Linked DNA regions of Homo sapiens. The protein of the gene in region 1 purifies or fractionates together with the protein of each later gene. This does not show direct contact. Each region holds a gene or a part of one and is shown in the gene's direction. Other genes may lie near its edges.

Region 1 (3,500 bases):
ATGAGAAACTAAGCCACAGAGAGCCAGAGAGCTTATTTATAATCTGATCTAGAATCATATAACTAGTGAGTGGTTGAGCAGCTAATTACTCAAAAGTAGAAATCTTGCATTTTCCTTGAGTGTTTTTCACTTACTACCCATGTTTTATCAGAGCTACCTCTAGAATGTGTCTTCTGTCCATTTATTCCAAACCTAGTTTCTCCCAGTGGTACCAAGGAAGACCAGTATCTTATCCTTCTTGTCTTGGGGAGTTATTATGGCCTCTAATCCTTTTTAACTACTTCAAACGGCCTTTCATCCCACTGACAAACATTTTACTGAAACATAAATACGATTGTGTTACTTCCTTATTGAGGAAAAGAAGGGGAAATAATTTTTTGGAGAAAATTTTAAGACAGACTATACATGGAACCATAAGTTTTTAATAAGCTTAATATTGAATGATGTTTTCTTTTTTCCTATAGCCCTTGAAGAAAGCTGTTAGGATGATGGGAGCACCTAACCTAATAGCAGACAGTATGGAATATGGACTTAGTTACAGTGTCATTTCATACCTCAAAAAACTGAGTCAACAGGTAATATCAAGAAATAGAGTGAGCCATTAAGTATTTTGAATGGTTTTGGCTAGGATGGTTAAACAGGTTAAAAGCTAGTTCTTGATGGTTCTAATGGAATTCCATTATATTAATATATTACATTTTAGAGCCATATATTACATAATTCTGTCTCACATCCATGGTGTGCTATGTTTTGAAACATTAATTTGAAAATTATATAATAATTCCTAATTTATGAAAATGGCTTCATGAGTGTGGTCCTAGACTTGCTATATGTGAACATTATTTATCTTTTGAGAAATTTAGATTAGAAAGTCATTTTTCCTTAAAAAAGAAAAAAAAAACTCTTTATGTTTTGAAACCTGCAGATTTTTCTTTCAGAATGGGAGTTTCTTTGAAATGTTTGTAGAAAACACTGAATTTTGTCATTCTGGCCATAAGTCACATTAATAAATACTATAGTAGTCAAGCAGTATATAGTTTAACTGACTGTGAAATTATTAATGTCCTATGAAATACATTATTTCTCCAGTACTTCTGACATTGCTACCTTAACTACAAATCAAAAGGCAGTTTGGGAGGAGTCAAAACATTGCTTCTTGCTTTCCAGGGAAGAACTGCATAATTATTTGCCATATTGATGTGCTAGTAAAAATGTCTTACATAATGATGATTTTAAAAAAATAATTTACCGTCACCCCTGAATTGGGAATACACATTTTTGTTTAGTGTGCATTTATATTTCATGGTTTAGGTATAGTGGGTATTAATAAATAAAATAATAAATTGAAATTGTGTTTGTCCTGCTCCAAAAGTTTAGAGTTGTAATGATTTAAAATCATAAGACATTGTTGTTTAAACTATGTTTAATTTACCCAATACTTGACATAAACTATGCTACTTGAGTTTTTAACTTCTTATATACTTAAAAAATATATATTTAATTTATAGAAGATCATAACCATTAGTATCTGATTTATTAATTTAGATTTTATCAAGATAATTCTGACTTATTTTTACTTTAGGCCAAAATAGAATCTGATCGAGTCATTGGATCTGTAGGCAAAAAAGTAGTACAGGAGACTGGAATAAAAGTCCGGAGCCGATCACATGGTTTATCAATGGCATATAGGAAAGATTTTCAACAACTCCTCCAGGGAATTTCAGAGGATGTCCCTCACAGACTGCTAGACCTTAATATGAAGGAATACACTGGGTTCCAAGTTGCTTTGCTGAATAAGGTAATAATCATGAATTTAGTGCTACTCTAGTTATGTTCTGTTATGTTACTGGATAAATCACATTTTCTGTTAACTCTGACATTCAGTTTATCCAGACTTTAAAGAGTACTTCTGTACTCTTGTAGACTAATGATCATTATACTGTCACTGCTAGAATTAAAACAGTGTACATGGTGTGTGAATGAATGGATAGATTGATGAAGAGTAAACTAACTTGTTTATTTTATAGATGAGAAAACAGAGGTTTAGAAATTGCTTTAAGTTGCAGTAGTGGATGGTAGAATTCACTATAGTTTTGTACTTAAACTGATGACCCTATTAGACCCACAGCATGATCCAAAAATGCTTTGTGAGTACTCATGGTTACAGATATCTTTATCCCAGCAGCCTTTTTGTAGAAATAGGCAAGCTGATTCTAAAATTTATATGGAAATGTAAAGGTCCTGGAATAGCCAAAACAATTTTAGAAGAATAAAGTTGGAAGACTTATATCATCTGATTTTAAAACTTATTGTAAAACTTACTACAGTGATCCATGCAGTGTGGTGCCATCATAAGGATAAACATAGGAGATTAGTGGAACAGAATTGAGTCTAGATGTAGGCCCTCACACACACAGTCAATTCTTAACAAAGATATTAAAATAAGGTAGTGGATAAGAAGACAGTCTTTTAAACAAATGGAACAATTGGATATCCATATGCAAAATAATGAATTTGACCATTACCTCATATTATTTGAAGTGGTCGTGATCTTAAATGTAAGAACAAAAACTATAAACTTCTAGAAGAAAACATAGGAAAAAATCTTTGTGATGTTGAGTTAGCAAAGATTTCTAAAAGCACATAGCAAAAATGTTGATAAATTGAATTTCATTAAAATAAAAAATAAACTTTGCTCTTTAAAAGAAACATTAAAAATGAAGAGGGAAGCTACAGCTTGGGAGAAAAGCACATATCAAATAAAGGACTTGTATCAAAATATATAAAGAATTCATATAACTCAATAATAAAAGGACAAACATGGGCAAAATATTTGAACAGACATTTCACCAAAGAAAATATGCAAATACAAATAAGAACATGAAGTAACACTCAGCCTTATCAGCCATTAGGGAAATGCAAATTAAAACCATAACGAGATACTACTTCATAACTGCTAGAATGAATAAAATTTAAAAGACAAAAAATACAGGGATTGATGAGAATGTGGAGCAACCCTCCTAACATTACTGATAGAAAATAGTTGATATTTTCTTAAGAAGTGTAAACATAAATTTGCTGTACAATCAGTCATTCTACTTGTAGGCTTAGCATGCCAACATGGCAGCATTTTTCATAATAGCCAAAAACTTGTAACAGTCCAAGTGCCCATCAGCTGGTGAATAGATAAAGAAGATGTGGTGTGTCCATATAATAGACTACTACTCTGGAATAAAAAGGAACAAACTACTGATACATGAATAATGTCAATGAATCTCAAAAACATCATGCTAATTGAAAGAAGCCAAGTACAAAAGATTAGACGTTGCAAAATTCCATTTATAAAATGGAGCATAGAAAGAAAGCAAGTCACGTGGTTGCCTGGGGATAGGAATAGTGATTGACTGCAAGTGGGTACAACAAACTTGGGGATGGTGGAAATGGATTATGATGATGGTTTCACAACTATAAATTTACTAACATTCATCAAACTATATACT
Region 2 (3,500 bases), on another chromosome or scaffold:
CGGTGGCTCACGCCTGTAATCCCAGCACTTTGGGAGGCCGAGACAGGCGGATCACGAGGTCAGGAGATCGAGACCATCCTGGCTAACACGGTGAAACCCTGTCTCTACTAAACAAAATACAAAAAAATTAGCTGGGCGTGGTGCGGGCGCCTGCAGTCCCAGCTACTCGGGAGGCTGAAAGGCAGGAGAATGGCGTGAACCTGGGAGGCGGAGCTTGCAGTGAGCCAAGATCCCACCACTGCACTCCAGCCTGGGAGACAGAGCGAGACGCGAGACTCCGGCTCAAAAAAAAAAAATTTATTTGCCTGCAAATGGATTTACTTTATCCTCGTTCTTAAAGGACTTTTTTTCCCTTAGGTGTGTAAGATTTTAGGTTGACAGTATTTTGTCTCTGCACTTTGCAAACAACGTTCTGTCTCTGGGCATGGGCAGCCGTAGGGTCTGAGCAGGAGCCTTGGTTTTTGGTGCTTGTGCTCTGATGGGCTGACATGTATCCTCAGCCTGTTTAGAGTTTGAGGCCTCTTGGATCTGTGGCTTGAGGCCTTCATCATGTTTCTTCCAGTGTTGTTTCTGCCCCGTTCCTGCTCCTCCAGGGACCCCGAGAGCCTGACGTTCAACCTCTTGAAACTCCGTCATCTGTTTGTCTTTCCTGTTTCCTGATGGATATTCCCTCTGGTGTCTTTCAGTTCATGGATTCTCTTCTGGTTATGTGTCATATGGTGTTAAATTCATCTGTTGAATTCTTTTTTTTTTTCTTTTTTTTTTGAGATGGAGTTTCGCTCTCATTGCCCAGGCTGTAGTGCAGTGGTGCGATCTCAGCTCACCTTGAACCTCCGCCTTCTGGGTTCAAGCGATTCTCCTGCCTCAGCCTCCCGAGTAGCTGGGATTACAGGCGTGTGCCACCACACCCAGTTAATTTTGTATTTTTTTTTAGTAGAGACGGGGGTTTCACCATGTTGGTCAGGCTGGTCTTGAACTCCTGATCTCAGGTGATCCACCCGCCTTGGTCTCCCAGAGTGCTGGGATTACAAGAGTGAGCCACTGCGCCTGGCCAAAATTTTGTTTTTAAATTAGCCTGGCGTGGTGGGTGCGTGCCTATAGTCCCAGCTATTTGGGAGGCGGAGGTGGAGGCGGGAGGACGCTTGAGCCCAGGAGTTTGAGTGAGCCATGATTGCGCCACTGCAGCCTGGGTGACAGCCCCACCCTGTCTCTCAATTTTATTTATTTATTTTTTTTTGAGACACAGTCTCGCTCTGTCGCCCAGGCTGGAGTGCAGTGGCGCGATCTCGGCTTACTGCAACCTCCGCCTCCCGGGTTCAAGCAGTTCTCCTGCCTCAGCCTCCCGAGTAGCTGGGATTACAGGCGCACACCACCACATCCGGCTAATTTTGTATTTTTAGTAGAGACGGGCTTTTTCCGTGTTGGTCAGGCTGGTCTTGAATTCCCAACCTCAGGTGATCCACCCGCCTCAGCCTCCCAAAGTGCTGGGATTACAGGCATGAGCCACCGCACCCGGCAAGTTTTAAATGAATAAATTAAATTTAAAAGAAGTCTAGTTTTTTGCCAATTTTTGTTTTTGACACTCTCGCTCTTGTTGCCCAGGCTGGAGTGCAATGGCACAATCTCAGCTCACTGCAATCTCCGCCTCCCGGGTTCAAGTAATTCTGCCTTAGCCTACTGAGTAGCTGGGATTACAAGCACCCACCACCATGCCCAGCTAACTTTTGTATTTTTAGTAGAGACAGGGTTTCACCGTGTCGGCCAGGATGGTCTTGAACTCCTGACTTCAGATGATCTGCCCACCTTGGTCTCCCCAAGTGCTGGGATTAAAGGTGTGAGCCACTGTGCCCAGCCCAGTATTTTTTTGTTTGTTTTTACCGAGATGGAGTCCCGCCCCATTGCCCAGGCTAGAGTGCAGTGGCGTGATCTCAGTACACTGCAACCTCCACTTCCCAGGTTCAAGCGATTCTCCTGCCTCAGCCTCCTGAGCAGTTGGGATTACAGGCACGCACTTCCACACCTGGCTTACTTTTGTATTTTTAGTAGAGACGGGGTTTCACCATGTTGGCCAGGCTGGTCTCCAATTCCTGACCCCAAGGGATCCACCTTAGGCCTGGCCGCCAACATTCTGAACCTTGTCTTTTCTCTGTCATGTATTCAAAGTCCACGCTGGAAACTCCAATTTCAGGTCCCTTCAGTTTTTTGTCCGTTGTCTTTCGTTCTTTGTCCACGTTGCCCGTCCCTTGTGAACTGGATGCTGTGTGTGAGCAACAGGGACTGAAAAGCTCAGTGCAGTGCCCTCGCTCCCCGCCCCGCCTCCCTCCCTGCCCCCGCCCCCCTCACTCCCTGCCCCTGCCTCCCTCGCTGCCCGCCTCCCTCCCTCCCTCCCCGCCCCCACCTCCCTCGCTCCCGCCCCCGCCCCCTCGCTCCCCTTCCCCCACGCTCCCCACCCCCGCCTCCCGCGCTTCCCGTCCCCCGCCTCCCTCACTCCCCGCCCCTCTGCTGTGAGGACACAGCCTGAGCGCAGCCCTGTCCTCCACAGGTAGATGATGAGCTGGAGATCAAGGCCTACTATGCAGGCCACGTGCTGGGGGCAGCCATGTTCCAGATTAAAGTGGGCTCAGAGTCTGTGGTCTACACGGTCAGTGGAAGGGCTTGAGGCTTGGGAGGGGCTGCTGGGGTGGGAGGCACCCTCCTCATGGCATCCTTGATCGTTCACCAGGGTGATTATAACATGACCCCAGACCGACACTTAGGGTAAGTAGGCTGAGGTGTCTTTTTGTCCCGTGGGCCCCCCTGGAGCTCAGGACCCTTGCAGGTGTCAGGGTGCCAGCCCTTGAGTGGCCAGCCTGGCAGTGTCTCCCATGTCCTGTGCGGCCTGGAGAGCCCCCTTCGTTCTGGGCCCAAATGCGCGAAGGCACAGGGTCCAGGCAGGGGCCTCTGTCCCTCCTTCTCTCTCTTCCCAAGTCTCTGGGTGGGTGCCTCTGTCTCGCTCTTCCGAAGTGTCTGGGTGGGTGCCTCTGTCTCTCCTCTCTCTTCCCAAGTGTGCTGCCCACAGCATTTTACCAGCTGGCTCTTTCCAGCCAGAGTGACCTAGGAAGGCGGCTGGGCGTGGTACTGGGGTCCAGCTTGTCACACCCAGCCCTGCAACCGTGGGGACAGTGCATCGTGGCTCACACCCCCACCCCCGTGTTCCAGAGCTGCCTGGATTGACAAGTGCCGCCCCAACCTGCTCATCACAGAGTCCACGTACGCCACGACCATCCGTGACTCCAAGCGCTGCCGGGAGCGAGACTTCCTGAAGAAAGTCCACGAGACCGTGGAGCGTGGTGGGAAGGTAGCTGCAGCAGGGGTGGGGACATGGGCCCTCGGCCATGCTGGGCTGGTCTTTCTGGCAGGCTTGGCTGCCCTTGGCATGGGTCAGGGTCTCAGGGTGGGGGGTACTGCATTTTCAGGCAGGGAGGGAAGAAGATTTGCTCAACATTGAGGAGGAAAACTCA
Region 3 (3,500 bases), on another chromosome or scaffold:
CTTTGGGAGGCTGAGGCAAGCGGATTGCTGGAGCTCAGGAGTTCGAGACCAGCCTGGGCAACATGGTGAGATCCTGTCTCTACTAAAATACAAAAAATTAACCTGGTGTGGTGGCACGCACCTGTAGTCCCAACTACTCGGGGCTGAGGCAGGAGAATTGCTTGAACCCAGGAGTTGGAGGTTGCAGTGAGTCTAGATCGCACCACTGCACTCCAGCCTGGGCAACACAGGATGTGTGTGTGTGTGTATATACACACATACATACACTAATGTATGTATATATATGTATACATATATACACACATGTATGTGTGTATACATATATGCACACGTATATATACACATATACACACGTATACATATATGCGCACACATACATGTATACATACATATATACGTGTATGTATATACACATGTATATACACATGTATACATATATGCACACACATATATACATATATACACGTATATATACATATGTATATACACATACATTAATTAGCATGTATGTATACACACTATATATAATACTATAGCTAATAATATGAATGAGATAGGCTCTAATAAAAGGTATTATTAGAAATAAAGAGATTATTGATGAAAACTGGCCCAGTTCTCTAGGAAGAAAGTATTCTAAATTTGTATTTACCTAGTAATAGCTTCAAAATATATAAAGAAAAAATTGGCATAATTCATGAGGGAAAATTGAGAAATTAATTATGATTGTGGGAGAAATTCAGTACACATCCTTGCCAAGATTTCAAGCATAGATACGGCAAAACAACAATTAGCGAGCTGCATTTAACAGACTCCTAGGCCCACGAATTGCACAGTATTCTTTACAGGTACACAAACTATTAAAGATGGAGACCTTATATAGTAATATAGACGACTACATTTCCACAGAGAGTACCTGTAGTTTTTGAGTTTAGTTTTTTTTAAATGTGTCTGTGTCAAAATCATAATATTATAATGAAATAATGAATTTGTTTTTATCCTGCAGGGATACAATTGGTGTCATGATCGGAATGTGGTTACCATTTTCAGTGCACCCAATTACTGTTATCGTTGTGGGAACCAGGCTGCTATCATGGAATTAGATGACACTTTAAAATATTCCTTGTGAGTAACTGTAAATTTTAATTGTATATACTTTCAGAAGGAAAATTTTAAATGTTAAAAATAGAAGATTTCTGTTTCTGAAATTGGATGAGGAGTATAGCAAAGCCCCTCTCCAGCAAAAATAACCATTAGCTGGAGAACATTATTTTTAAAAAATAATTTTTCAAAGCTTTTGGAAATTGTCCTAAGGGCATACAGCAGGTGGAGAAACAGTTAATTCAAGAAAACCTACTAAATCTCAGTAATAATAGCCGTAGTCTGTGGCATTTGAGCTATGACTTGCCCCCTCCAACTCCTCCCAGATCCCTCTCACAGAAACGACTACAGGCGCTCTACGCTGGGTTGGTATAGTCAGGAGGCTAAGGGATTCCCCCTCTTCATCAGCTCCCAGGGCTGGGGCTGTGGGTTCACTCCCAGAGATCAGATGCCAGCATATCTCACCTCTCCTAGTCTGGAGTTACAAAAGCTCTACTCCTGGTAGACACAGTCAAGCAGGCTGAGGCCCCCTTCCCTGCCCCAGCTCCTGGGGCAGAAGCTCTGCTCCAGGCATGCATGGCAGATGAGAATGCTGGGTTTCCCAATGCTGTTACCCCAGCACCTGCTTATAAACCAGGTGGTATCACTGAGCCTGCACTGGCACAGAAGTTCTGCTCAGGAGGAAAGGCAGGTCACAGAAGTTCCTCAGCTCTGCCTCAGAGGACTTATCTTACTTAGGTGATGGAGAATTCCAAATCTGAGTGCTTTGTGGAAAGCAGTAGATGTCATGGTGGAGACCAATTAAGAGGGCTGTAATAGCTCCCATGATACTAGGAGCAACATACAAAAGAGCAGAGCAACATGTTGTTCAACAAATAGCACCAGGGAAAAAGCCAAGAAGAGCCCTTCTGGGATCACAGTCAGCCCTGGGGGACAAGAAGGCTGTGCACATGCACTAGCCATACCCACTCAGGAGCAGTCAAGAGTAGGATGTGGGGTATTCATATAATATTTTCAAGCCACACATAGATTGTACTGAGTTGAATAATGTCCCCCCAAAAAAATTCATGTCCACCCAGAACCTCAAAATGTGATGTTATTTGGAAATAGGATCTTTACAGATATAATTATTAAAGATGAGATTGTACTGGATTAGGGTGGGCCTAAATCCAATTCGAATGGGATTTTAGTAAGAGGAAAAGAAACACACACAGGGGAGAATGCTGTGTGAAGCCAGAGATTCAAGTGATGCATCTACCAGCTAAGGATTGCCAGAGCCATCAGAAGCTAGGGAGAGGCTAGGAAGGATTTTTCCTAGAGCCTTCAGAGAGAGCGTGGTCCTCCCAGCATCTTGCTTTCAGACTTGTAGCCTCCAGAACTGTGAGAGGATAAATCCCCGTTGTATAAGCTATACAGTTCGGTAATTTGTTACGGCAGCCCCAGGAAATGGATAAGTAGATTGATCAACAAATGGTGTAACCATCACTAGTATGTGAGGCTTAAACACAACCTCTCATCATTGACTGAACGACATTCAGTTACTCTGATCCAGGAGCACCTCCTAGGTAGTCAGGCTTTAAAATAAAATCACACTCATCCCTGACAGTCTGGCAGAATATGTGCATGCCCAAGGTTATACCCTCTCTGGACTGAGTGCAGTATGAAGATCCAACTATTAGTCCCTGGCTGAATGGGAAGCCAAAATATAAACTCCTTCAGCTTTGATAGCAATCTGCAAGTCACATAACATTTCCGGTGGCCATTAGGGTGAGCTTTAAGATCTAACTGGCCAAGGGGGCTTAAGTACAATCTTTGATCAGTAAGTGGCTTATGCCTACCCAGAGACAGCCCCTCAGTAGCCAGGCTGTGAAAGATTAAAAGAAGTAAAAACGGTCAGGCACGGTGGCTCATGCCTGTAATCCCAGCACTTTGGGAAGCCGAGGTGGGCGGATCACCTGAGGTCGGGAGTTCAAGACCAGCCTGACCAACATGGAGAAACCCAGTCTCTATTAAAAATACAAAATTAGTTGGGTGTGGTGGCGCATGCCTGTAATCCCAGCTACTCAGGAGGCTGAGGCAGGAGAATCGCTTGAACCTGGGAGGCGGCGGCGATCACGCCATTGCAGTCCAGCCTGGGCAACAAAAGTGAAACTCAAAAAAAAAAAAAAAAAGTAAAAACATCCGAGCAGGGCCACAGGGGCTGCACACTATGGGGGAAGTAGACTTTACAGTTAGTTCAGCTAAGTCACTAAACAAAAATAATAAACCACCAAAAAGACAAGATCAGTCCCCAAGGACATGAATTCCAGAGCTACTGCAATATGTTATCTATAATGTCCAATTTTTCAACCACAGATTATAAGACATGGAAAGAACAAGGAAGTGTGACCTCTACACAGGAA
Region 4 (3,500 bases), on another chromosome or scaffold:
GTGGCGAGGCGGGGATGGCACTCCCCCCCGCCGCCCCGTGGGGCGGCCCCGACTTTCGGGCGGTGAGTGAGAGGCGGGCCCTGCAACCTCTGTCTCCTGGGTTCAAGCAATTCTCTTGCCTCAGCCTCCTGAGTAGCTGGGATTACAGGCATGTGCCACCCTGCCTGGCTAATTTTTGTCTTTTTTAGTAGAGACAGGGTTTTGCCATATTGGCCTGGCTGGTCTCGAACTCCTGACCTCAGGTGATCCACCGACCTTGGCCTCCCAAAGTGCTAGGATTACAGGCCTGAGCCACCCCTACTTTTTAATGACAGCTCAGGGCTCCAGAAGGAAGTGTTTTAGCAAACATGACAGAAACTTCATTGCCTTTTCTGACCTGGCTTCTGAAGTCATGCAGCATTGCTTCAGCTGCATTCTCTTAAGTTACAGGAGAGTCAAAATCTACCCGATTCAAGGAGAGGGTGCATAGACCACTATATGTGATGATAGGAGTGTCAAGATCACATTATAGAAGACCATGTCGGATGGGAGATAGGCTTGTGGCCATCTTTGGAAAATGCAAACTTTCATACCTGTACATGTATGAAATGTTGCTATAATAGATTGCCCCACCTTAGGGTATTGCCCAGTTGTTGGAATCCTTCCATGGCTCTGCCCCCTTACCCTGTTCTCTGACTCTAGTGTCTGAAAATCTTGCTGATCAATAAAATGGAAAACTTAACATTCATACAACTTACATTGAACCTTTCTAATAAACCTCTTTTTATATTGGAAGAATACCTGTGTGACATAGACATAAATTATTTTATTAATGTAATTGAAATTTTAGAAAAGTGGGGTGAAAGCATTACTTATTCAGCAGAAAGTAAATATGTTTCTGCTACTTAAAGTCATAGGAGCAAGATGTTAACTAAGTGGCATCTCATTGCAAATGAGTACAATATTTTTGTTTTTACAGATATGCAATATGATGAGGATGATGATGAAATCACCCCGGATTTGTGGCAAGAAGCATGCTGGATTGTAATCAGGTAACTTTGGACCAAACTGAATTAGCCTGAAAAGGCACTTTAGATTTCCTGCTTATTCTTCTTGATAAATAGCTCTTCTATATAAATATGCTACATGAGAGTAGTTATTTTATTTATATATTTAACATTTTAAGTATTTCAGATCTAAAAGTTACACAAAGAATTCATTTAATCATTTTAACCAGATTCCGAAAATGTTACCCTGTACTACATTTCTTTGTCTTTTTCTCTTTTTGTATATATATATTTTTTTCTGAAACATGTGAGAGTAACTTGCAGATCATTTGACCCTGGGAGGTTGAGGTTACAGTGAGCGAAGGTCGCACCGCTGCACTCCAGTCTTGGTGATAGAGTGAGACCCTGTTTCCAAAAAAAAAAAAGAATAACTGCAGACATAAGAACATTCTTTTACATAATCACAATTATGGTGATCTTATTTAATCTATAGACCTTACCCACATTTTGCCAGTTGTCCCACTGGTGTTTATAGCAAAATACAAATTTTTCTGATCCTGGATCCAACCTAGGATCACATATTGCATTTACTTGTCATGGCATGTTCTTTTGTTTCCTTTAATCTGGAACAGTTCCTCAGTGTGTCTGTTCTTTTTTTTACCTTGACATTTTTGAAGAATACGGGCCAGTTACTTTTTAGGATGCCTTTCCGTTTAGGTTTGTCTGATATTTCTCATAATTAGATTCAGATGATTACTTTTGGCAGAAGTGACATAGTCTCAGTGCATCATATCAGGAGGCATGTTTGTTTCATTACTAGTAATGTTAATTTGATTGCTTGGTTTTCTCATTATTTTAAATGGACAAAGTTAAAATTGGTTGTATTTCATTCCAAATTCCCATCCAATTCTAAGTGTAACTAAATGTAATAAAATTACGAGAAGCCTTGTATAGGTAAGAAAAGTAACTTATAAGTGATAAAGTAACATCCTGTAAGGTTAGGATGTTAAAGGCTTATAACTCTTCTCTCTCTTCTCTCATCCCCTGACACCTGTTTTATATACAATAAGATGATGATGGATGCCTCTCTGAGCCCCATCAGCTCCAAGGTGCATGTCCTTTTGGTCAACATTCTCTCTTTTCAAAGAACACATGCTTCCAACATTCTGCCAGTTGTATTCAGAGTATAACTGAATAACCTTTCTTGAACGTTGTTTTGTGAAAGAGATACTGATTTGCCTATAATCCCAGCACTTTGGGATGCTGAGGCAGTCAGATCACTTGAGGTCAGGAGTTGGAGACCAGCCTGGCCAACATAGTGAAGCTCCGTCTTTACTAAAAAATACAAAAATTAGATGGGTGTGGTGGCGCACACCTGTAATCCCAGCTACTTGGGAGGCTGAGGCAGGAGAATCACCTGAAATTGGGAGGCAGAGTTTGCAGTTAGCTGAGATGATGTCACTGCACTCCAGCCTGGGTGGCAGAGTGAGACTCTGTCTCAAAAAAAAAAAGATGTTGATTCAGCATGTTGTCCAGAATCTTACAAAAAAAAGTATTGAAAGCCAGGTGCTGTGGTGTGTGCCTATATAGTCCCAGCTACCTGGGAGGCTGAGGCAGAAGGATCACTTGAGCTCAGGAGTTTGAGTGTTGCCTGGGTAACATAGTGAGACCTTGTCTCTAAAAATAAATAATTAAAAAATATATATTGAGTTTTTGGGATATAAGTATATATTTTTCCATAAGGAGTTGATGGTGAGGATAGGAGCTCTGTTTCTGGTGGCAGGGTTTGGAGAAGGGGCCGGGGCGGCAGTTGCCATGTTTGGTTGCAAAGGTAGCAAGAAGCCCCTGAAACAGCCCAAGAAGCAGGCCAAGGAGATGGACGAGGAAGATACAGCTTTCAAGCAGAAACAAAAAGAGGAGCAGAAAAAGCTTTAAAATAGAAGGCTGTGGGGAAAGGGCCCCTGGCCACAGGTAGAATTAAGAAATTTGACAAAAAGTCTTGGCGAGGTGGCTCGCACCTGCCCGTAATCCCAACACTTTGGGAGGCTGAGGCCGGTGGATGACTTGAGCTCAGGAGTTTGAGACCAGCCTATGCAACATAGCCAGACCCTGTCTATCTCTTTTTTTTTTAAAGAAAGAAAAAAAGAGAAATCTGGCAAAAAGTCAGCTTTTCATTGTGCCTGAGGTGATGGTGACCTTTGATTCCATTTGTATTTAAACATCTGTATTCCCTGCCATAATATCTTTTGCCACCTATAGCTAGAATGAAGCATTGTCCTGGAGCCATTTAAGAGTAAACTTTTGTAAACACAAAAAATAAAACAAATTGGCTGTAGAAGACTAAACTTTACTGAGACAGTTACATCTTCTGTGATGTTTGGGTGTTAAACACCAAGAGATATTTTATTAGGAAACAATAACCAGGTAGATGTTCTGTGGAGTGTGCCTATATTCTACATTCTCCCGGTAGAAAAAATATTTTATCTTAGGTGAAAAGAAGTTGTTTTCAACATA

Evidence for each region. Proteins that work in one complex are often made in the same cells at the same time.
Region 2: the proteins of INTS6 (region 1) and INTS11 purify together in Homo sapiens (affinity purification with mass spectrometry; 3 studies listed by BioGRID, with this or other methods). This does not show direct contact.
Region 3: the proteins of INTS6 (region 1) and PPP2CB purify together in Homo sapiens (affinity purification with mass spectrometry; 3 studies listed by BioGRID and IntAct, with this or other methods). This does not show direct contact.
Region 4: the proteins of INTS6 (region 1) and POLR2B purify together in Homo sapiens (affinity purification with mass spectrometry; 3 studies listed by BioGRID and IntAct, with this or other methods). This does not show direct contact.

The regions. Positions count from the first base shown.
Region 1 is NC_000013.11:51,376,537-51,380,036, reverse strand, and holds part of INTS6 (integrator complex subunit 6), read left to right. Parts: intron 1-464; coding exon 465-575; intron 576-1,582; coding exon 1,583-1,798; intron 1,799-3,500. UniProt on the Homo sapiens protein: Component of the integrator complex, a multiprotein complex that terminates RNA polymerase II (Pol II) transcription in the promoter-proximal region of genes.
Region 2 is NC_000001.11:1,314,661-1,318,160, reverse strand, and holds part of INTS11 (integrator complex subunit 11), read left to right. Parts: intron 1-2,542; coding exon 2,543-2,641; intron 2,642-2,722; coding exon 2,723-2,757; intron 2,758-3,198; coding exon 3,199-3,337; intron 3,338-3,500.
Region 3 is NC_000008.11:30,788,819-30,792,318, reverse strand, and holds part of PPP2CB (serine/threonine-protein phosphatase 2A catalytic subunit beta isoform), read left to right. Parts: intron 1-1,003; coding exon 1,004-1,122; intron 1,123-3,500.
Region 4 is NC_000004.12:56,985,396-56,988,895, forward strand, and holds part of POLR2B (DNA-directed RNA polymerase II subunit RPB2), read left to right. Parts: exon of another isoform or gene 1-62; intron 63-958; coding exon 959-1,031; intron 1,032-3,500. UniProt on the Homo sapiens protein: Catalytic core component of RNA polymerase II (Pol II), a DNA-dependent RNA polymerase which synthesizes mRNA precursors and many functional non-coding RNAs using the four ribonucleoside triphosphates as substrates.